Regions from separate parts of the Homo sapiens genome. Here all the other regions are linked to region 3. The links come from fine-mapping of genetic effects on gene expression. A gene starts in region 3. Each other region holds a variant in brackets. All regions are shown on one strand. Distances are between the middles of the regions.

Region 1 (8,185 bases), 100 kb before region 3:
GGGAGACACACTGGGACAGGCTTGCCAAACTCTGTCTCCTAGTGGTTCTTAAAGGAGCCCTGAATCTCAGCTCCAGCCCCTCTCAGCTGCAGTCCTGGAGCAATCCTTCCCACATAGGGAACTGTTGGGAGTCTTGCCTGATGGTGCCACCAGGTTGGGCTTGCCAATATCAGTCACACAGCAGTTTCTGAAATAGCACTGAAGCTCAGTTTCAGCCCCTCCCAGCTGTGGTCTGGGAACAGTTCTGCCCAGCTGGGATCCCGCCAGGAGACGTGCCCTTCTGAGTCCCTGGATCTTGGTCCTGGAGGGAGGCATGTCTCGCAGTGTCCCTGAAGGCTGATTCCTTGACCTCGATCTCATTGTGGATCTTGAAACAGCCCTATAAATAGACTCCAGCCCTTCTCAATTGCAGTCTGATGGCAGGTCTGCTCACCCAGAAGCCCACCGGGAGACACACCCACCCCTGACCCTGGAGACAGGACTGAAGATCTCGATCTCAGCTGCGGACCCTGAAACAATCCTGTGTCTCTGTTCTAGCCCCTCTCAGCCATGGACCAGAGCAATATGGCCAGCCTAGGGACTCATCCAGTGATCCAACAGCAGCTCTCTCAGAATCACAGAGGAAGCCACACCCATCAGTGCACCTGGTAACAGGCCTGCCATCTGTGAATCCTGAAGTGGATCCTCATCCTAGCACCAGCCCCACAGACCAAGATCCTGGAAATAGTCCACTCCACTAGGGAACCATATAGGACCCATGCCCACTAACTTTGGTCTCCACTGCAGACCCGGCACCAGCAACATGATCTAGATTCAACCCTACTCAACTGGGATCCTGGAGGCAATCTCATCAACCCAGATACCTGGTATGGTTTGGATTTGTACCCCCACCAAATCTCATGTCAAATTGTAATCCCCAGTGTTGGAGGTGGGGCCTGGTGGGAGGTGGTTGGATTATGGGTGTGCATTTCTCATGAATGGTTTAGCACATCCCCCTTTGTACCGTCCTCATGGTCTTGATAGAGTTCTCATGAGATCTGGTTGTTAAAAGTGTACAGCACCTCCTCCCTCTCTCTATTGCTCCTTGCTCCCACCATGTGAGACACCTCATACCCCCTTTGCCTTCTGCCATGATTGGAAGCTTCCTGAGGCCTCCCCAGAAGCAGAAGCCACTATGCTTCCTGTACAGCCTGCAGAACCGTGAGCCAACTATACCTCTTTTCTTTATAAATTACCCAGTCTCAGATATTTCTTTATAGCAACGTGAGAATGGACTAATACAATACCTAACAGGAGAACACTTTAACTTGCCAAAATGTATCTGTAAAGACTGAAAGAAGGGTTTGCTCCTTCAAATGCAAGGCTACACAGACATCACCAAAGGAAGTTGTAACAACAAATGCCTACATCAAAAAAAAAAAGAAATCTCAAATAAACAGCCTAACCTTATGCCTCAAGGAACTAGAAAAAGAAGAACGAACTAAGCCCAAAATCAGTAGAAGGAAAGAAATAATAAAGATCAGAGCAGAAATAAATGAAATAGTGGCTAAAAAGATGATAGAAAACATCAACCAAACTAAAAGTTGGTTCTTTGAAAATGTAAACAAAATTGACAAACCTTTAGCCAGACCAACTAAGAAAAAAAGAGAGAAGACTAAAATAAAGAAAATCAGAAATAAGAGAGGAGATATTACTGATGTCACAGAAATACAAAGGACCATAAGAGACTGTTATGTGCAGTTATATGCCAAAAATTTGGTTAACCTAGAAGAAATGGATAAATTCCTAGAAACATACACCTAACAAGACTGAATCAAGAAGAAACAGAAAATATGAACAAACCAATAATAAGCAATGAGATTGACTCAATAATAAGACATCTCCCATCAAAGAAAAGCCCAGGACCAGATGGCTTCACAGTCGAATTCTACCAAATATTTAAATAACTAATACAAATCCTCCTCACACTTTTTCCCAAAAAAATGAAGAAGAGGAAATACTTCCAGACTGATTCTATGAGGCCAGCATTACTGATGCCAAAGTCAGGCAATAGCACTACCAAAAAAGAAAATTCCAGGCCAATATCCCTGATGAACATAGATGCAAAAATCCTAAACAAAATATGAGCAAACCAAATTAAACAGCATATTAAAAGGATAATTCACCGTGATCAAATGAGATTTATCCCTGGGATTCAAGGATGGTTCAACATTTGCAAATCAATGAATGTGATAAACCATAATAACAGAATGAAGGACAAAAACTATACAATCACCTCAATAGATGCAGAAAGGAAAAACATTTGAGAAAATTCAACATCCTTTCATGATAAAAACTCTCAACAAATTAGGCATAGAAGGAACGTACCTAAACACAATAAAGGCCATATATGAAAAGCCCACAACTAACATACTCAACAGTGAAAAGTTGAAAGCTTTTCCTCTAAGATCAGGAACAAGACAAGGATGCCCACTCTCACCACTTCCATTCAACATAGTACTGGAAATCGTAGCTTGAGCAATGAGGCAAGAGAAAGAAATAAAATACAGCCAAATTGGAAAGGAAGAAGTTAAATTGCCCCTGTTTGCAGACAACATAATCTTACATAAAGAAAACCCAAAAAACTCATGCCAAAACTGTTAGAACTAATAAATGAATTCAGTAAAGTTGCAGTATACCAAATCAACATGCAAAAATCAGTAGCCTTTCCTTACACTAAAAATAAACTATATGAAAAAGAAATTAAGAAAATTTGATGCTATCCACAATAGCATCAAAAAATTGAATATTTAGGAGTAAATTTAACCAAGGAGGTGAAAGGTCTGTGCACTAAAGACTATAAAACATTGATGAAAGAAATAGAAAAGATACAAATAAATGAAAAAGTATCCCATGTTCATGTATGGAAGAATTAATATTGTTAAAAAATGTCCATACTACCCAAAGCAATCTATGGGTTCAGTTAAATCTCTATCAAAATTACAATGTCATTTTTCACAGAACTAGAAAAAGCAATCCTAAAATTTGTATGGAACCACAAAAGACCCTGCATAGCCAAAGCAATCTTGAGCAAAAAAACTGGAGCCCAAAGATCAAAAGCAAAAGCTGAAGGCATCATACTACCTGGCTTCAAAATCTATTACAAAGCTGTAGTAATCAAAACAGCATGGTACTGGCATTAAAAAAGATGCATTGACCAATAGAACAGAATAGAGCCCAAAAATAACCCCAAGCACTTACAATCAATTGATTTTTGACAAAGATGCCAAGAACACACAATGAGAAAGGACAATCTCTTCAATAAGGAGTGTTGGGAAAACTGGACATCCACATGCAAAATGAGCTTGGACTCTTATACCATGTACAAAAATCAACTCAAAGCGGATTAAAGACTTAAACATAAAGCTTGAAACTGTAAAACTACTGGAAGAACACATGGGGGAAAATGCTCCACAACATGGGGGAAATGCTCCACAATAGCCCCAAAAGCAAAGGCAACAAAAGCAAAAATAAACAAATGGGATTGGATCAAATTAAAAAGCTTCCACACAGCAAAGGAAACCATTAACAGGATGAAGAGACAACTCAAGGACTGGGAGAAAATATTTGCAAACCATACATCTGACAAGAAACTAATATCCAAAATAAGGAACTCAAACAACTCAATAGCAAGAAAAAAAAACAAACTAGTTAAAACACGGACCAATGACTTGACATTTCTCAAAAACAGATACACCAATGTTCAACAGATATATGAAAAACACTTATCATCCCTAATCATCAGGGAAATGTAAATTAAAAGCACAATGGAAATATCATCTTACACC[C/T]GAATGTGAGGTGATATGATAGAATATCATGAAATCTATAATAGAATAGGTGATAATAGAATTATTATCAGAAAAACAAAAGATAATAAGTGTTAACAAGGGTGTAGAGAAAAGGGAATGCTTGTACACTGTTGGTGGAAATATAAATTAATATAGCCATTATGAAAAATATTATGGAATTTCCTCAAAAAGCCCCACAATAAATAGAACTACCATATGATCCAGCAATCCCACTACTGGGATTAAAAGGAATCCAATCCTGGCTAACACAGTGAAACCCTGTCTCTACTAAAAATACAAAAAAATTAGCCAGGCGTGGTGGCGAGCGCCTGTAGTCCCAGCTACTCGGGAGGCTGAGGCAGGAGAATGGCGTGAACCCAGGAGGTGGAGCTTGCAGTGAGCCAGGATCGCGCCACTTCACTCCAGCCTGGGTGACAGAGAGAGACTCTGTCTCAAAAAAAAGGAATCCAAAGGAATTAAAATCAGTATGTCAAAGTGGATATCTGTACTCCCATGTTCATTGCAGCATTATTCACAGAGGGTAAGATTTGAAAGCAAGGTAAGTGTCCATCAATGGATGAATGGATTTTTTAAAATGTGGTATATATACACAATGGAATACTATTCAGCCTTTAAAAAGAATAAAATTCTGTCACATGTGACAACATGGATGAACATGGAGGACATTATGTTAAGTGAAATAAGCCAGGCACAGAAAGACAAATATCACACCATCTCACCTACATGTGAAATTTTAAAAAGTCAAATTCATACAAGTAGAGAGTACAATGGCAATTCCCAGAGGCTGGAGGAGAGGGGTAGACATGGAAAGCGGAGATGTTTAAGTAGTTGAGGTGGTGAATTTGTTAATTTGCTTGATTTAATCGTTCCACAATGTAAACATATATCAAACATCAAGGTCAGGCAAGGTGGCTCATGCCTGTAATCCCAACACTACGAGAGGCTGAGGCAAGAGGATCACTTGAGGCCAGGAGTTCGAGACCAGCCTGGTCAACACAGGGAGACTCCTGTTTCTACAGTTTTTTTTTTTTTTTAATTAGCCAGGTGTGTTGATGCATGCCTGTAGTCCCAGTACTCAGAAGGCTGAGGAGGGAGGATCACTTGAACCCAGGAGTTCGAGGTTGCAGTGAGCTATGATCACGCCACTGCACTCCAGTCTAGGCGACCCAGCAAGACCCTGTCTCAAAAGAAAAATAAAAAAATAAAAAGAACAATTCTGTTTACCACAGTCTGCCCTCTGGCCCCCAATGATTCATGTCTCTCCTAAATGCAAAATACATTCACCTTCTCCCAAATTTGCCAAGGGTGTCAATACCATTACAGCTTAAACTCAAAGTCCAAACTCTCATCTAAATCTCATGAATTCAAAAATCCAATATCTCATCATCAAATCACTTAGATTAGGTGTGGGTGAGACGCCTGGCACAATTTCTCTCCATCTGTGGACCTATGAAACTGTAGAAACAAGTTATCTATTGCCAACACATGATGATGGAACAGGCATAGGGTAAGAGTTACAGACATTCTAGTTCAAAAGGGAGGAAAATGGAAGGTAAAAAGGATCACCAGTCCAAAGCAGTTTTAAAAGCTGGGAAACTCCCTTGGGTTTCAAGACTTGGAAATAATTCCACGTGCCTTTCAGTTCTGCCCTCTGGCTCTCGCCTGTGCCCCCTGGGCTTTCAGTTCCTCTCTCTGAGCCGTCCTTTTTTCATGAAAGGTAGAATGTGTTTACAGCTGAGTAGTTTTATCAACCTCCTTTCTGCCAGAGGAATTCTGGGAGTTTGACAGCTTCCTTTCACTTCAAACTCTGTCACTTTCAGTCCAAGCTGGCAGTATTTCTGCTGATACAAATTTCTCAAGAACCTTGTCTGCTTTGAGTGGATGTCATAGGAATTCACTACATTGAACAGAAGCCATGTCCACAAATCTGGTAGAGATCATTCCTTCTCTAGCTTTGGCTGCTGCTGAGATGGCTCAGGGACACCCTTAAGCTTCCTAGAAGCCACTGATTTGAATGAGATCTGTGAGGCACAGCATAAACCTCTTGTGATCAAATACTCTAACCTTTTGTCTCTTAATTTTAGTGTCTTCGTCAATCTTGATATGCTGAGAATTACCCAATTCCTTTGTGTTTAACAGTCCTTTCCTCAATTTGTCACTCTCTTCTTGGGTTTTACTATAATCGGCAAGAAGAAACTAGATGGCACCTTCAACACTTTACTTGACCAATCCAGTGAGACCCCATCTCTATAAAAATAAAAATAAATTAGCCAGGTGTTGTGGCACGTGCCTGTAGTCCCAGTTACTCAGGAGGCTGAGGCAGGAGGATCATTTGAGCCCAGGAGTTTGAGGCTGCAGTGAGCCATAATTGCACCACTGCACTCCTGCCTGGGCAACAGAGGGAGACCCTGCCTCTAAAAAACAAAAAAAAACCAAAAAAAAAACAACAAGCAAAAACAACTTTACTTGGAAATCTTTTCAGCTAAATATGTGAGTTCATTGCTTTCAAATTCTACCTTCCAAATAACTGCAGGACACAAGTTTCAGTTTTGCTAAGCTTGCTGCCAATACATAACAAGGATCTCACTTCCTCCAGATTCTTATAACATGAGCCTCACTTCCTTCTGAGGCCTCACCAGCCGCCTTCCCATAGTCCATATTTCTACTAACATTCTGTTCAAGGCAACTTAGGCTGTTATCATGCTCCACAAAATCCTCTTCAAACTTGGTTCCAAAGACACTTCCACATTTTTAAGTATTTCTTATAGCAGCACCACACTTTCAGGTACTAAAATCCATATTCGTTTTCTATCGTTGCATAACAAACTAACATGAACTTACCATATCCTGACCTATATTCTATATTTTGGCATTTATCTTATCTGGCTTTCTCTTTCTAAGGGTTATTTTGTCCGTGCCTTATCCAAGTCCTCTATGCCCCACTATATTTTTTCATGGCATTTCTTTACGCCTCTTCTCCTCTGCACTCTGCACCCACAGGCGTGCAGCAGCAGGCAGATGGCAGGAGCTCTATTAGAATTTGGTTTATTTCTTTGCTTACAAGTAATTTAAACATCAGAATATTCTCTTTTACCAAATACTGATGAAGGAATAAGTCACTGTATTAGTCCATTTTCGTGATGCTGATAAAGACATACCTGAGACTGGGTAATTTATAAAGAAAAAGAGGTTTAATGGACTCAACAGTTCCATGTGGCTGGGGAGGCCTCACAATCATGGTGGAAGGTGAAAGGCACATCTTACATGGCAGCAGATGAGAGAGAACTTGTGCAGGGAAACTCCCCCTTACAAAACCATCAGATCTCGTGAGACTTATTCACTATCATGAGAACAGCACAAGAAAGACCCACCCCCATGATTCAATTACCTCCCACCAGGTCCCTCCCATGACACGTGGGAATTGTGGGAGCTACAATTCAAGATGAGATTTGGATGGGGACACAGCTAAACTATATCAGTCATATGTTGCTTTATTTCATGAGGTTTATTTGTGGAGAGAGGGGTGAGTAGGGAGATTCAGAATGAGGCAGTATTGCCACTGTCCTCCAAACCCAGAAGGCTAGTTTTTCACAATGGTATAGATTATCTATTCTGAAACGACTTTCTATGTATTCTAGGATTGAGCAAATAAGTATATTGAGCCAGATTGTTCACTGTCAGAAAAGGAAGTTACAAATATGGAAAGGGGGAAGACTAGAATGAACCTCTGGTGTTGGATTGAAATATGAGGTATCAGTATGAACTCATGGCTTTAATATATATATATATATATATATATAGAGAGAGAGAGAGAGAGAGAGAGAGAGAGAGAGAGAGAGAGAGACAGATGTGGAAACAAATATGTGTGTAAATGTACACGTGTGTACACATGCACATGCATGCCCATACACACATTTGCAAGAAGGAAAGAGTTAAAGGAACTGACCTGCAATTTATTTGGTCTCTTTACAAGGGGGATATCCCTAGTGCAAATAAAATAATGCATAGTTATAGTGATTACTGATATATTAGTATTTCTTTTTTTCTTAATTTATGCTATTTCCCATTCTTTTGCTTTATTTTTTCCTCCTCATTTCATGCCAATTATTGGATTCGCCATGCTTCATTTTTTCTCTTCTTTTTCCTCTTCTGGCTTGGAAGTCATATAACCCATTTGTGCTCTTGTAGTAGTTTCTCTTAAATTTGGCATACTTGGTTTGAAATCTAAAGTTAATCTATATTGGCCGGGCTTGGTGGCTCACACCTGTAATCCCGGCACTTTGGGAGGCTGGGGCCAGAGGATTGCTTGAGCCCAGGAATTTGAGAGACCAGCCTGG
Region 2 (8,185 bases), 220 kb before region 3:
TGTGTAAGCTCAGGCAGGGCAGGTCACCTCTCCTTTACCAGTCTTAATGTTCTCACTTGTAACACGAGAGTAACACCTACCTTGTAGGGTTGCTGTGAATATTAAGGCAATAGATCTGCATTCTCTTTTATAAAGGCCAAGCACTACATGAATGTGACAAGCCATTATTATGGATAGATTTCTTATTTACCTACGTAATAAGATATGAAAATGGACCTTCCCAATGCTGTTTTGCACCAATACAAGAGACATCCAAAAGGAGTGTGCTCAGATCTACAGAGGCTGACTTTACAAAAGGTATGCTCTAAGACTCTCAAATGCCCTCAACAATTTTGACTACAAAGGCATCAAGAGAGGGTAGAAGTAAGAAGGATTTGTGAAGAAGGTTCTTTAGATAAGGCTACTGCCATGCTGTGGGCATCCCTCTCCGACCCCTGAGGTGATGGGGAGCCCCCTTTTAACCTTAAGTCCGTGAAATGGTACTTTAAAGGGACCCTTGAAGAGGTAACTGTGTGTTCTCTGTGGTTGGGGAGCTAGGATCAGAGCCTGAATTAAGACAGCCTGTGATAGCGGGCTGCACCTCTGCATGTGGGAGCCATGGGGGAAAAAGAGGCTGGACGCTAGGCATGGCAGCTTACACCTGTAATCCCAGAACTTTGGGAGACTGAGATGGGAGGATTGTTTGAGACCAGCCTGGGCAACATAGTGAGATCCTATCTCTACAAAAGTAAAAAAAATCGGCTGAGCGCAGTGGTTCACGCCTGTAATCCCAGAACTTTGGGAGGCCGAGGCGGGTGGATCACGAGGTCAGGAGTTTGAGACCGGCCTGGCCAACATAGTGAAACCCCATCTCTACTAAAAATACAAAAATTAGCCGGGCATGGTGGCAGGCACCTGTAATCCCAGCTACTTGGGAGGCTGAGGCAGGAGAATCGCTTGAACCTGGGAGGCGGAGGTTTTGGTGAGCCGAGATTGCACCACTACATACCAGCCTGGGCAAGAGCGAGACTCTGCCTCAAAAAAAAAAAAAAAAGTAAAAAAAAATTAGCTGGGCATGGTGGTACACGCCTGTGGTCCCAGCTACTTGGGAGACTGATGTGGGAGGATTGCTTGAGCCCAGGAGGTGGAGGCTGCAGTGAGATGAGATTGCACCATTGCACCCCAGCCTGGGTGACAGAGTGAGACCCACTCTTGAAAAAAAAAAGAAAAAAAGGTTGGAGTCTTCTTTTGTTAATCTTTTTGGAAATATAAGATACATATTAAAATGTGCACAAACAACAGGTTTATAGCTTGATGAATTTTCACAAACTGAATATCCCAACAAAACCAGAAGATTAATTACTAGCATCCCATAAGGTCTCTGTACCCCGCTTTCAGTCACTACTACCCCCAAGGGTAACTACTATCCTGACCTCTAATAGCACAGATTATTTTTGCCTCTTTTTGTTCTTTATATAAATGGAATCATACAGTGTGTACCCCTTAGTGGCTCACTTCATTGCTCAACATTCTATTTATGAGAGCCATCCATACTGTATGTAGTTGTAGATCGTTTATTCTCACTACTGTATAGCATCCCATTGTGTGAGCATTCCACAATTTATCCGTTCTACTGTTGATAGACATCTGGGTAGTTTCCAACTGGGGGCTATTATGAATACCTACGGATATTTTAGCACATGTCTTTTGGTAAACATATGTACACATTTCTCTTGCACATACATCTAGGAGTGGGACTTCAGAGTTATAGGGGTGGTGTCTGTAAAAGCTACAACAGTTTTAAGTGTTTCCAAAGAGGATTTCTTAAAGAAAGTGTGGATTCGAGCCTCTACTCCCACTCTCTCACATCAGCCCAAGAACCAGAAGCCAAAAGGGGTGTGGATTTTAGAGAAACACTGTATGGTGAGCATCACCAGAGCTGCAATCAAAGGGGCCCAGCGAAGGAGCCTCCCATGAGCCCCATGGAAGAATCTATATGCCAGGAACATGGCCCAACCTAGAGAAACATTTTAATCTAGCGCAGCATTGTCCCTGCCTCCACATGGGTATTGTGAAGGGCTGCTGTTGAGAGGCTAGCCTTTGAGCTCCATTTCTGGACAGCTGGTTTTCATCTGACCAACTTCACTCCTTGGCTGTGTGACTTTTGGAAGGTCATTCTTTCTCTCTAGGCCTCACTTTTCTCATCTTTCTGATATGAGGCTGCTTTCTGCTCTGAACTTGTAATTGACTGCGTTCTAAATGCCTCACGAACGGAAAGCACGTCTTCACTTTCCTCTGTATTCCTAGAGAGCACCTCATGCTCTACATACCTATTGGCACAGTAGGTCACTAGACAACAAATGTCTTGCAATTTCATTTTCTAAAGAAAAAAAATCTGCTTTTATGGGTTCAGTGATGCACAAAATGAGGATTTAATTGGCGCATTAAAATTAGCAACATGGTGTGTGTGTGCCTGTCCAAATATAGATGTTATACTGCACACCAGCTTTATGGAAAAATCCATTTCCATTCTTGTGCAACTGAGTTTCTCTGAAGAAACAGAGCAAAGACCATCTATGTATCATAAATTTGTCAACTCACTATTTTACCCAAGGATGTTGGGTAATTAGATTCCAACATAGACCCAAAGAATTCTTTTCTTCATCTGGGAACTTGTTTTATCACTTGCTACTGCCTTGATCCTAATGCTTAGCATTTAAAGGTTATATATAGGAAAAAAAAAAAACCACTCCATTGTGTAGTCACTGTCTAGAATGGCATTATATTTTAACAGGATATTATCACTCTGAAAAAAAAAGAAATCATTTTTACTGGGTAGGAAATTATTCCATCATACGGTATTATTCAAGCAATTAGAAATCACATTGTGTGGTGAATGATCAGCTCTTCTTGGTGGAGTTTGTTATTATACTGTTCGTATTTAAAATGTGGGGCTGCAGAGAGAAGAAGGCTTCTTTAGTAGAAGCATGAACACTCTAAGCAGCTCAGGCAGGTGAGCCGTGATGCAATTTTATTTCCCAGGAAATTCTTTCTGGAGTTCCCCTGAAGTTCCCTGTCTTACTTCACCCACAGAAACCTTGAATTCTTTCCCTTTAGCTAAGCTAGGCACCCCTAGGGCTTTATAGGGAACTGACAACTTAAAACTTGGTATTGATCCAAAAGTTTGTTGGAAAATCTGTCTTAGAATTCAGAACAGATTTTCTTCAGTTCTATATGAATGACTGGTTCCTAAGCACACCACCAGAGCCCACGCCACCCACAGGAAATGAGACGCTAGTATTAATGATGGTCAAGAACCAGTTACTTGGTAGAGTGTTATTTCCTGGTGAAAATCCACTCTAAGTTTTCTTGTGAGAACAGAAACTCAGCTCACCTTCTCTCCTCCCTACTGTGCTCTACTGTCAGAAGTGGGGATTCCTACACCATGGGGGATTGGAGTGTGCAGGACAGGAAAATGAGTTGGAAGGCATCCAGAAGTCTGAGCAAAGGCAGGGGCTTCCCAGCAGTGACAGAAAGACGAAGGGAAAAGGAGCAGGGGTGGGCCCAGCAATGATGCAGGGGTAGAGGTGAGAATATTTATAGCTTCAGCTGCAATCAGGAGGAAAGTCCCTGGACACAGAGGTAATTTTGCTCATGGGACATCAGCAACTTGTACAGTCATAATTGAGGGACTGTCCCAGTGAATACACAAGTTGATGCTTTAACATTCACTCAAGCCTACTGAAACTTAACCTTTCTTTCCACTTAAAAAAAAATCATGAAAATAAATCATTCTATAAAAAAAAGATACATGGACCTGTATGTTCATCGCAGCACTATTCACAATAGCAAAGGTATAGAATCAACCTAGATGCCCATCAATGGTGGA[C/T]TGGATAAAGAAAATGTAGTACATATACACAATGGAATACTACACAGCCATAAAAAATAATGAAATAATGTCCTTTGCAGCAACATGGATGGAGCTAGAGGCCATTATCCTAAGCAAATGAACACAGGAACAGAAAACCAGATACCACATGTTCTTGCTTATAAGTGATAGCTAAACATTGGGTACATAAGGACATAAAGATGGGAACAATAGACACTGGGGACTACTAGAAGGGGGAGGGGAAAAGGGGGACAAGGGCTGAAAAACTACCTATTGTGTACTATGCTCAGTGCCTGGGGGACAGGATGATTAGTACCCCAAACCTCAGTGTCACACAATATACCCATGTAACAAATCTGCACATGTACCTCCTGAATCTAAAATAAAAGTTGAAATTATTTTAAAAACCATACTTCAGATATACAAAAAGTATACAGAACAATGTAACAAACATCCAGCTGAAGATAGAAAACATTTCAGGGCCGGCTGCGGTGGCTCACGCCTGTAATCCCAACACTTTGGGAGGCTGGGGCAGGCAGATCACCTGAGGTCCGGAGTTCGAGACCAGCCTGACCAACATGGAGAAACCCCATCTCTATTAAAAATACAAAATTAGCCAGGCGTAGTGGCGCATGCCTGTAATCCCAGCTACTCGGGAGGCTGAGGCAGGAGAATCGCTTGAACCCAGGAGGCGGAGGTTGTGGTGAGCCGAGATCGCGCCATTGCACTCCAGCCTGGGCAACAAGAGCAAAACTCCGTCTCCAAAAGGAAAAAAAAAAAAAAAAAAAACCCATTTCAGATATAGTTGAGCCCTCTGTTGTACCAAGTCTCACTTTCATTCTCTACCCCAAAACAGCTACAAGTTTGGTATTATCATTTCCATGTGTATTTTTATTATTTTATTACATGTAGATCACATATACGTATATTATAAATCTATAGACATTATATCCTATTATAAATCATTAGGGATATATGTTTATCCTAAATGATTTGATATTTTTGCATATTTTAACATTTTATAAGTGGTAGCACTTTTTTTTTTTTTTTGAGACAGGGTCTCATTCTGTTACCTAGGCTGGAGTGCAGTGGCACAAACATGACTCACTGCAGCCTTGACCTCCTGAGCTCAAGCAATCCTCCTGTCTCAACCTCCCATGCAGCTGGGACCACAAGTGCACACCACCATGCCCAGCTAACTTTTTAAAAACTTTTTATAGAGATAGGGTCTCACTTTGTTGCCCAGGCTGGTCTCAAACTCCTGGGTTCAAGCAATCCTCCTGCCTCAGCCTCCCAAAGTGCTGGGATTACAGGTATGAGCCACCATGCCCAGCCTAATGGTAGCACTTTCTATGTGTCCTGTCACTTGTTCTTCCTTTCTAACATTATGTTTTAAAAATTAGTCTATCTTGCTTGGAAATATACTACAAAGCTATAGTAACCAAAACAGCATACAGCATGGTCCTGGCATAAAAACAGACACATAGACCACTGAAACAGAATAGAAAGCCCAGAAATCAATCCACACATCTACAGCCAACTGATTTTCAACAAAGTTGCTAATAACACACATTGGGAAAAGGACAGTCTTCTCAATAAATAGTGCTAGGAAAATTAGATATTCACATGCAGAAGAATGAAACTAGAACCCTATCTCTCACCATATACAAAAATCAATTCAAAATTGATTAAAAACTTAAATGTAAGACCCAAAACTATGAAACTGATAGAAGAAAGCAGGGGAAATGGTTCAGGGTGTGGGTCTGGGCAGGGATTTTTTTTGATAGAATCTCAAAAGCACAGGCAACTAAAGCAAAAATAGACAAGTAAGATTATATCAAATTAAAAAGTTTCTGTACAGCAAAGGAAACAACAGAATGAAGAGACAACTTACAAAATGGGAGAAAATATTTGCAAACTATGCATCTGACAAGGGGGTTAATATCCAGAATATGGAAGGAACTCAATTCAATAGCCAAAAAAAACCCCATCTGATTAAAAAGTGGGTAAAAGGCCTGGATAGACATTTCTCAAAAGAAGACATACAAATCGCCAACAGGTATACGAAAAAATACTCAGCATCACTAATCATCAGGGAAATGCAAATCAAAACCAGTGAGATATCATCTCATACTAGTTAGAATGGCTGTTACTAAAAAGACAGAAGATAATAAGTGTTGGCAAGGATGTGGAGAAACGGGAACCCTTACATACTGTTGGTGAGAATGTAAATTAGTACAGTCATTATGGAAAACAGTATTGGAGGTTCCTCAAAAAATTAAAAATAGAACTACCATATGATCCAGCAATCCCACTACTGGTTATATATCCAAAGGACATGAAATTGGCATGTTGAAGAGTTATCTGTACTCCCATGTTTATTGCAGCAGTATTCATAATACCCAAGATATGGAGTCAACCTGTGTTCATCAGTGGATGAATGGATAAAGAAAATGTTGTATATATACATGATGGGGCCAGGCGTGGTGGCTCACACCTGTAATCTCAGCACTTTGGGAGGCTGAGGAGGGTGGATCACTTGAGGTCAGGAGTTCCAGACCAGCCTGGCCAACATGGTGAAACCCTGTCTTTACAAAAAAATATATATATATATTAGCTGGGCATGGTGGCGGGCACCTGTAATCCCAGCTACTCAGTAGGCTGAGGCAGGAGAATTGCTTGAAGCTGGGAGGCAACGGTTGCAGTGAGCTGAGATCGCACCACTGCACTCCAGCCTGGATGACAGAACAAGACTCTGTCTCAAATAAATAAAAATAAAATATATACAATGGAATACTATGGATAAAGAAAATATTGTATATATACATAATGGAATACTATTCAGCTGTAAAAAAGAATAAAGTTCTGTCATTTGCAACAACATGGATGAACCTAGAGGATATTATGTTAAATGAGCCAGGCACAGAAAGATAAATACTGCATGATCTCACTCATAGGCAGAATCTAAAAAAGTTGATCTCATAGAAGTAGACAGTAGTAGTGGTTACAAGAGGCTGGGGAGGGTGGGGAGATGGGGTATGGAAAGAGGTTGGTCAATGGGGACAAAGTTACAGTTAGATAGGAATAAGTTCTGGTGTTCTATGGCACAGTAGGGTGACTATAGTTAACAATATTTTGTATATTTCAAATTTCCTAGAAAAGAGGACTTTGAATGTTCTCACCACAAAGAAATGATAAATGTTTAAGGTGATGGATTTGCTAATTGCCCTGACTTGATCATTATACAATGTATATATGTATTCAAATATCACATTGTATCCCATAAATATGTACAGTTTTTGGTGTCAATTAATAAAATAAAGCTTAAAAAAATTAGTCCATGTTGCTAATGTGGCTCTAGGGCATCCATGTCAATACTGCTGTATAGTATTCCATCTTATAAACAGACCTTTTCTACCACCCAAACTCAGGACCCAGCCATGCACTCACTTCTTTTTCCCACCTCACACAGGATATTAGATTCTTAACTCACAGTCAGAGGAACACCCTTTTCTAAGGACCAAATTGTCCAGGTGCCTCACCTAAGCCCTCCTTCCTGAGCCCCAGGAGAAGCTGCCATTGGAAATGGCAGGCTGCCTGGTGAGTATGGATTCAGAACATGATCTGACCTTGACAGAGAGTTTGTCCTTGTCATGGGATAAGAACAGAAGAACTGCCTCCAGCCCCGGTGGATAGATGACTCACATCCCTGGAACTTCCTACCTCTTTTCCCTGGATGGGATCCAAGTCATGCTGTCAAAATAGAATTAATTCACTCTTTAAAAGGGAAAAAAATTCTCAAAATTTAGAATAACAGAATCATACAATGCAAGAGCTAGAAGAGTAACTTGTCCCTGCCTCCTTCCCCAACACCTTAATATAAGACAAGGGACATCTGGGCATCAGCCAAGCCAATTATCTGAGGATATTTCTAGACAGCAGTCACTTGGGGTTTTTCTAGAAGGGGCCGAAGGGTGAAGACCTGAAAAGGAGCAAAAGCAGAGTGTTGGAATGGCTGAGAAGCACCCTTCATGATTAATCAGTGACATTTAGAGCCATCTCTCAGCTCAGCTCAGCTCACCAGAGCAGGGAATCTCTTGGCAAAAGTCTCTGTCCCAGGATTTCTGGCACTTAGTTTGCTGGCCTGTATCAAGCATTCCTTGAAAACTATCTGGCCGGTCAATGCTGGTGCCTGCCATGCAGTATCTTTGAAGTAGGAAAAGGGCTCCTTTGAGTTCTAACCAACAGCTTTGACTGTGTGGAAGCTGTTAATTTACCACAGTTGGCTGCTTTCCCCATCACCCCTCTGATCTACAA
Region 3 (8,183 bases):
ATGAAATGTTCTGGGAGTTGTTATAAACACACCCCAAGGAAGCAATATTTAATAAAACTAGGTCAAAAACAAAACAAAACAGTGACACTCACTTGTGTGTATATAAACTCTAGAGACATCTTAGGCCCTCCCTTCATCTTTAACCTGGTGGATGGAGCCAGTTATTAATTTATAATAATACATGTCTGAAATTTGACCAAAAACATCTTCTTTATGTCAAGGTTAATATATTTTCTTCAGACATTCCTAACTTGACTAGTGGTTAACATTTAGCACCTTGGTTGTCTTTCAATATATAGGATTTGGGTGAAAAATAAGGAACTTAGTCTTTGAGAAGGGACAGTATGTGGTTCGTATTGATCAAGGATCCCAAATAATGCAATCATTCTCATCTGTTGAGGATGTGGGAACTTTTCTGTCAGGAAAATTTAGTTTACAGAATACTTCTGCATACAACATTAATTAGGAAACAAAGAACTTTAATGCTGTACCTCTGCATGAAGTTTCTGTGAGCTTTCTTTATCTTGCTTAACTTATCCTCCTTTCCTTCCCCACCAAAATTGGGATTGTTCTAAACAATTTCAATTTAATTCATTGTCAACAAAACGATAGAATGTTTTGCTTGGAAGAAACCTGGTCCATTCCCCTCATTGTGAAGAATCCCGAATCCTGGGCCTGTCCAGGGTCAAATGGAGTTTTTGGTATTAATACATCTCTGCAGGGTTTCTTTTTGGAGCACTGTGCTGTCTTTCCTAGTCAGTCAGGGACTTTTTTAAGCTTCAAAGAACATGGTCTGATGCAAAGGTCTTCTACCGACTTCATGGTATTTAGGAAAAATTTTTAAGTGATAATACCATGCCGAGTTACCTGGTCACTGTAATACTGGTTCTCCATTAAAATGTAGATGCTTTGTCTAATTCCACTTCAAGATGATTTAATTGAGCTTCTATAACTATCAACTATCAAATTCTAGTTTCAAGTATCTCACTGTACCTATATCATATCTGTTCTCAACTTTGTTTGATTCTCCACTCATTTTCAATCAGAGTTGAAGCCTTCTTTGCCTTTCTTCTTTGTCTTATTTCTGCCTTCATCTCCCACTTCTCACCCAACTCTGCCACTGTTCAGGAGCAGTTGACTAAACTTTTATCCTTCCTTTAACTTAATCTTTTTATCCTTCTGTTTTTAGTTCTTACAGTGGTAATCACATCAGTTTGGCAATCTAAGATGTCTTTATCAAGGGTCAGCCCTTTTCTATTTGGAGCTGAATCTTTTCTTTCATGTAGAAATCTACATGTATATACAAGAAATGTATTTTTATCTGCAGGATAATATTGTTTCAAATAATTTTATTAAGAGTTAACTTTTTAGGTATTTTCCCTTTTAATGTGGTTTTGAAATGTTAATTGCATTTTTACACATGATGCATTCAGTGGACACTCTTTTTTCCTAATTATAACTCATCTCTGAATGCATTGTGCCAATCAAGAGTAAGATAGGATTCAGTGCGCAAAATTTGCTTTTGATGCTTATTAAGAGTAAACCCATGAATTTGAATTTTTATATTATGCTTGGTACTTGGAATTGATATATACCTTATTAAAGCTTGAAAACATTTAGCATTTGAATAGTAAGTTTCATCACAAATCATGTCTTTTGCCTCTTTTGTTACCCAGGTTCGATCAAGGGGACTGGATGCCCAAGTGATTTTCTCTAATAATCGGGTTGGGACTTAACTTTAAGGTGTTTTCAATGTGATTTTAGTATTTACAGTAATAAATAAAATTTATACAAAGTTTCAGAGAACTACCAACTCTCTAGTTAATTTTGATGAAGATGTTTTCATTAATAGTCTGGTTTAGTATTAATTTAACCTTGAAATAAGAAATTGGTCCTGATTTGCCACCTTCATTTTTCCATCTGCTGAAATGCCATTTCAGAATGTATAAAAGTACTTTCAGAATTAGAAGAAAAGTGAGAGCTTCAGCAGAACGTGTCAAGTCGCTAATAACAGGAGTCGAACCTTATGTTTGAAAATTAACTGAGTGAGTTAAGTGCAAGCATAAACTAAAATTTATATGACTTTGAATTTAAGAACCACTAATAACTGTGTTCTAATTAACACAGTAATCTGTTCAGCCAAAGGATACTAACAGCCATTCTTTGGACTGTGGTTAATTTGATAACTTCAAGAAGTTATAACTTTGCTACCCTGGATTCTGATGCAATTTCAATATAAAAAGTTGTTCCTTTCATAGTTTTTCCCCCCAAAAGAAGTGCCTATTACATTTTACCTTAATGTTTATTTATCATCCAAGTGTTCTTGATATAAAATCAGTATACAGAAAATTTTAAGAGAACTTACATTCAAGGGACATAGAGGGAAAATGTTAATGTGTATTTCATTGTTTCTTGTGGAATTTTTTTTTCATTCGGTTTGAGAATGGACAGTGTGTCTAAGGATGTGATTTAAATTTACTTAGGATGGATTTAGCATTGAGGTTATTAAGACAAAGTTAGCAGAGGCCAGCCAGCACTGTGCTGCACAACTCCAGGAACTCCATGGTATGCTCACAATTTTCTGCAAGTTGCCTCCACTTCCAAGTGGCCAGTGATTTGTTAAAATACCTTGCCCAAGAATATAACTGATTGATGAAAGGGCATATTTAGGTCAATATAAAATAATAGCAAGTATTTACTGAGAGCTTACTGTGTGCTAGGCATTTTCTTAATATTTCAATGTGTATTTAATCCTCACAACAACCCAATGTGGTAGGTTATTGATATCCTCTTCTTAAAAATGAGTAAATGGAGGCCCAGAGAAATGTAATTTGCCTGAGATCAAATTAAGGTTGCTTAAGATCAAACTGCTAAGAAGGGGCAGTTTGAGTCTGAGCTAGTGCTCCTAAACACTGGACATTTTTGCTGTGAACCACAGTCGGGAAGGTTTAATGTTTAGACTCTTTCCTCAGAGGCTTTTAACTACACACAATTTTGACATGTTTTCCAAGCTCAGAAAGCTCATTAAAAACAACTAAAACTGACCTGACTTGTCACTTGGAGTTGACAATCCCAGTGCCTTCTGACCTTTGTGGCACTTCTTTGGAACTTAAATCAGACTTCCATGTGCAAGGAGCACTAATTATCATATAATCAAGAATACTAGATAATTATCGTCTAACCTTTGCTAGGTGCTTCAGGATGCCCTTATCTGGCTCAGGTGTGCAGCCTTCTAGAATCCAAGTGATGTGTTGCCCTAAACAGGCAAACGCCCCCTTCTGGGTGGTCCAGTGGCGGGGGATTTTGAGTTTTGGGTTAGCTTGGCACACCGCAGGCAGCCAGCGGTCACGTTTCACTAATACCTCAATTTGCTACAGCTGGTCTGTGGGCTTAGGAACCAGTAACTCTAGAATTGTATAATGCAAAGAACATACACGATTCAAGCAATGTGCCCTGAGCACCTTGTACATCTGGACAATAAAAAAAAGTTAAAACAGAAGTGCCCTACATTAGGAGAGGGAGTCGAATCGGATGCTGACAGGGTCTCTGTTTGGGGGACGAAGAGGGCCTAAGGGTTTCAAATAGTTAACTGCTTCCCCAAGCACCAAAGTTGTTAGACGTCAGACGTCAGACGTCACCCAAGTGGGGTGGAGCCGACGTGCCCCGGAAGTCAAGATGCCCCGCCCCGGGATCGGTGGCACCGCGCCGCGCAGGCGCAGGCGTCGCTGCCGCCGGCGCAGGCGCCGCTGCCTCGGGTACTTCCCAGGCTCCGCGCCTGCGCACTGCCGTCCGCCACGCCCCGCAACCTCCTGGTTCCAAGTGGGAGACATGGTGCTGTCGGAGCTAGCGGCGCGCCTCAACTGCGCCGAGTACAAGAACTGGGTGAAGGCGGGCCACTGCCTGTTACTGCTGCGCAGCTGCCTGCAGGGTTTCGTCGGCCGCGAGGTGCTCTCCTTCCACCGCGGCCTACTCGCCGCAGCCCCCGGCCTGGGGCCCCGCGCCGTCTGCCGCGGCGGCTCACGGTGCAGCCCTCGCGCCCGCCAGGTGAGCACCTGGCTCGGGGCCTTGACCACCGCCCCCACCCCACCCCTCCTCATCCCCGTTCCTGTCCCAGACCCAGAGCGCAAGTGTCCTGTTCCCTCCGCGATGCGGGGCCCACCGCGACGTCCCTCCCTCCTGGGCCCCTCCTCACCGCCGCCCCCTGTAGTTTCAGCCTCAGTGTCAGGTGTGCGCTGAATGGAAAAGGGAGATTTTGAGACATCATGTCAACAGAAATGGAGATGTGCACTGGGGAAACTGCCGGCCGGGCCGCTGGCCCGTGGACGCCTGGGAGGTGGCCAAGGTAAGCGCCTGAGGCGGGGACGGAAGGAGGAAGCGGCGGGTCACCCAGCACTCGGGGTGGCTATCTGGTCTTGTGGTCGCCGGGGCCTCATAAACAGATGCAGAGAGAGAGATTGATCAAGGGTCTAGGCGGTTCAGGGGTGGTATGCGGGACCCAACCCAGCTTAGTGAAGTAGAAGCTTTCTTCTACCCGTCTGCTTCCTGAGGGCATTTGAGTTTGTTACCCCTGCTTGGAAAGTTACAGGAAAGAGTTCTACAAGAGATACTGGGGCAAGATGCAGAGCGAGCATCATGAGCACAGGCAGGGAGGGAGGGAGACTCTTGTGTGGCCTGTTTGAGGGTAAGGCTCGCTGAACAGCTCATCAGCTCTTTTTTGGCTATAGGATGCCGTAAGGATGACAGAGTAAGCCAAGGGAAGTTAGGGCTAAAATAGCACCTTAAGTGCCCAGTTAAAGGCACTTTGGGTAGCTGGGAATGGGGTAGGCAGCCGGATCTGTCTTCAGATCTTGGCAATGTCACTTACTAAGTAGATCGAGTAGGAAATTTTTTTGCCCAGTAAGGGACGGAGAGGGACAGCCAGAAGTGGCTTCCTAACACAAATTGACTTTAGCAGTCAGTCTACATGCCAGTAGTTATCAGCAGGCACAGGGTGGGCACTGGAAAGGAGCAGTGCCTGGGAAGCAGATGATCTGAGTCCTGGATCAGCTGCCGTGGTGTGACACTGGGCCAGCTTGTGCTCCCCAATCTCAAAAATGAAAGGACGGCCGGGCGCAGTGGCTCACGCCTGTAATCCCAGCACTTTGGGAGGCCGAGGCGGGCGGATCATGAGGTCAGGAGATCGAGACCACGGTGAAACCCCGTCTCTACTAAAAATACAAAAAAATTAGCCGGGCGCAGTGGCGGGCGCCTGTAGTCCCAGCTACTCGGGAGGCTGAGGCAGGAGAATGGCGTGAACCCGGGAGGCGGAGCTTGCAGTGAGCGGAGATCGCGCCACTGCACTCCCGCCTGGGCGACAGAACGAGACTCCGTCTCAAAAAAAAAAAAAAAAAAAAAAAAAAAAAAAAAAAAAAAAAAAAATGAAAGGAATTGGGGCCGGGCGCGGTGGCTCATGCCTGTAATCCCAGCACTTTGGGAGGCCAAGGTGGGAGGATGGCTTGAGCTCAGGAGTTCAAGACCACCCTGGATAACATGGCAAAACCCCGTCTCTACAAAAAAATACAAAAATTAGCTGGGTGTGGTGGTGCATGCCTGTAGTCCCAGCTACTCAGGAGGCTGAGGTGAGAGGATCACTGGAGCCTGGGAAGTCGAGGCTGCAGTGAGCCGTGATCACACCACTGCATTCCAGCCTGGGTGACAGAGCAAGACCCTGTCTTAAAAAATTGAACTGTATCAGGGGTCCCCAGACTTTTGGGTATCACGAGCCGGTAAACCCACCACACCTACACCATCTTCCCCATTTTTTTCCACTGCAGCCATAGAGTTGCTGACTTCTACTTCTACCTAGAAAAGAGAAAAAAAACAGAAAGAAAGAAAACTCTGCCCTTTACAATGCCTGTCCCTCATCTGTTTGGTCTGCGTTGCTGCTTTCACACCATTGGAATCCTCTTGTAGCCTGTACTACCTCCTTATACCACTCTTTGCTCCTCTTGGTTGCTGTCACCTACAGACCTTCTAGTCCAACCCCATCCTCTCAGTTTCTGGGCTCCTGATTCCAGCATCCTCTGCTTCACTCCCCCTCAGCCTCCGGCTTGCATGCCCACACCCTGGACCTTGGCACAGAAAGTCTCAGTGTCTAACATCCTGCTGGCCTTTGGCACACTTATTCATGCACCCCTGCCCCCAACCCTGTGCCCCATACTACTTCCGCCTCTTTGAGGCTTCCACTGCTTCCTGAATACCCAGCACCCTCTGTCCTCCTGCCTGCCTTTGTCACCTCAGCTAGCCCAGATTCCATGGCCCATCATTATAATCCGTCCCTTGCTGTTATCTCAGCTTTTTTTTTCTCCTTTCTCTGAACTTGCCTGGCCCAACTCCAGTCCTGATGACATTTTCTGCTTCTGATTAGTGGGAAAGAATCTCACAAGGGAACTGACTGGTTTCACTTTCATTCTTGATCATGAGCCCCAGCGGTCTGGCCACATCTCTCTCTAGGCTTCAGTTTCTGGAGACTACTACTTTTCCCTGGCAAATCCCTGCTCCCGTTCCTCCGCCCTTGCTCATGCTTCACGGAATTGATGGAGGCCCTTGGACATACATAGTTGTCTCTCCTTATCCATGGGGTATTGCTTCCAAGACCCCCAAGGATACCAAAATCCACAGATGCTCAAGTCCCTGATATAAAATGATGTATGTGGTATTTGCATATTACTTACATACATTCTCCTATGTACTTTAAATCATCTCTAGATTACTTATAATACTTGATAGAATGTAAGTGCTATGTAAATAGTCGTTATGCTATATTTTTAAAAAATTTCGATTACTTTTTACTGTTGTATTATTTTTCTGAGAATTTTTCATCCACAGTTGGTTGATTCTATGAATGCGGAACTCGTGGATATGGAGGGCTGACTATACTTCCTCTTCTTTTTGCCAACACCAACTAATCTCCATGTGCACCATCTATTTCCTTCTGCTACAGAGGAGGAAGGGTGTCTCTCCTCTTATTGCCTCATACCTCCACTCGTGTGTTGGATCTTATCCCTTTTCTCTTGCTCAAGGCCTTTGAGGCTTCAGCTGTCCACTCTCTCTCTTGCAGCTCATTCCCATCTCCATAGAAAAAGCTTTAATATAGCCATGGTTTATTTAAATTTTTTTAAAAGAAACAATTAAACAGTTACCACATGACCCAGCAATTCCCCTCCTAAGTATATTCCCAGGAGAAATGAAACCATACATTCATACAAAAAAATGTACGCAGATGTTCATAGCAGCTCCATTCACTATAGCCAAAAGGTAGAAACAACCCAAATACCCATCAGCTGATGAATGGAATTTTTAAAATGCAGTATCTCTGTACAATGGGATATTGTTTTGCTGTAACAATGTAACAAAGGAATTAAGTACTAATACAAGTTACAATGTGGATAAATCTTGAAAACAGTATGCTGAGTGAAAGAAGCTAGTCACATATTATATTTATATGAAATGTCCATTTTATATAAATTCCATTTAGACTCCATTTGTAAGAAATGTCCAGGCGGGGCACGGTGGCTCAAGCCTGTAATCCCAGCACTTTGGGAGGCCAAGGTGGGCAGATCACCTGAGGTCAGGAGTTCAAGACCAACCTGACCAGCAAGGAGAAACCCTGTCTCTACTAAAAATACAAAAAATTAGCCAGGCATGGTGGCGCATGCCTGTAATCCCAGCTACTCGCGAGGCTGAGGCAGTAGAATCACTTGAACCTGGGAAGTGGAGGTTGCGGTGAGCTGAGATTGTGCTATTGCACTCCAGCCTGGGCAACAAGAGGGAAACTCCATCTCAAAAAAAAAAGAAAAGAAAGAAAAGAAAAGAAATATCCAGAATAGGCAGATCTATAGAAGCAGAAGTAGATTAGTGGTTGCCAGGGCTTTGGGGAATGAGGGATGATAGCTAATGGGTATGGGGTTTCTTTTTGAGGCAATGAAAATGTTCTAAAATGGACTGTAGTGGTGGTTGCACACCTCTTTAAATATGCTGGAAACCACTGAATTATAATGTGTAGATGGGTGAATTATATCTCAAGAAAGCTGTTTTTTTTAAAAACACTTGAATAAATAATTGGAAAATAAGATTTTAAGAGGCCGGATGTGGTGGCTCATGCCTGTTATCACAGCACTTTGGGAGGCAGAGGTGAGAAGACT

Alleles and levels. Positions count from the first base shown, and alleles are read on the strand shown. Sizes are in standard deviations (SD) of each study's normalised expression. Not every link is listed here.
As copies of T replace C in region 2, the expression in caudate of the gene that starts at base 3,788 in region 3 goes down (moderate effect, 0.75 SD a copy in GTEx).

The links.
Region 1: its variant is fine-mapped to the expression of CXorf38 in whole blood (TOPMed, PIP above 0.99).
Region 2: its variant is fine-mapped to the expression of CXorf38 in caudate (GTEx, PIP 0.99).

The regions. Positions count from the first base shown.
Region 1 is chrX:40,747,417-40,755,601 of GRCh38, reverse strand. No RefSeq gene overlaps it. Among named protein-coding and RNA genes, the nearest start is that of MED14OS, 16 kb to the right of the region's middle. RefSeq lists enhancers at 5,543-5,632, 5,703-5,782. The variant C/T (reference allele first, on the strand shown) is at 3,828.
Region 2 is chrX:40,866,908-40,875,092 of GRCh38, reverse strand. No RefSeq gene overlaps it. Among named protein-coding and RNA genes, the nearest start is that of MED14OS, 140 kb to the right of the region's middle. RefSeq lists enhancers at 3,444-3,523, 7,510-8,009. The variant C/T (reference allele first, on the strand shown) is at 3,869.
Region 3 is chrX:40,643,166-40,651,348 of GRCh38, reverse strand. It overlaps CXorf38 (chromosome X open reading frame 38), which reads left to right and starts at 3,788. Exons shown (of 7, transcript NM_144970.3): 1 at 3,788-4,044; 2 at 4,208-4,342. The coding sequence starts at 3,829. MED14 (mediator complex subunit 14) reads left to right here. Exons shown (of 31, transcript NM_004229.4): 31 at 1-3,044. RefSeq lists silencers at 3,572-3,752, 3,588-3,887, 4,008-4,157, 6,818-7,112 and enhancers at 4,408-4,607, 6,295-6,524.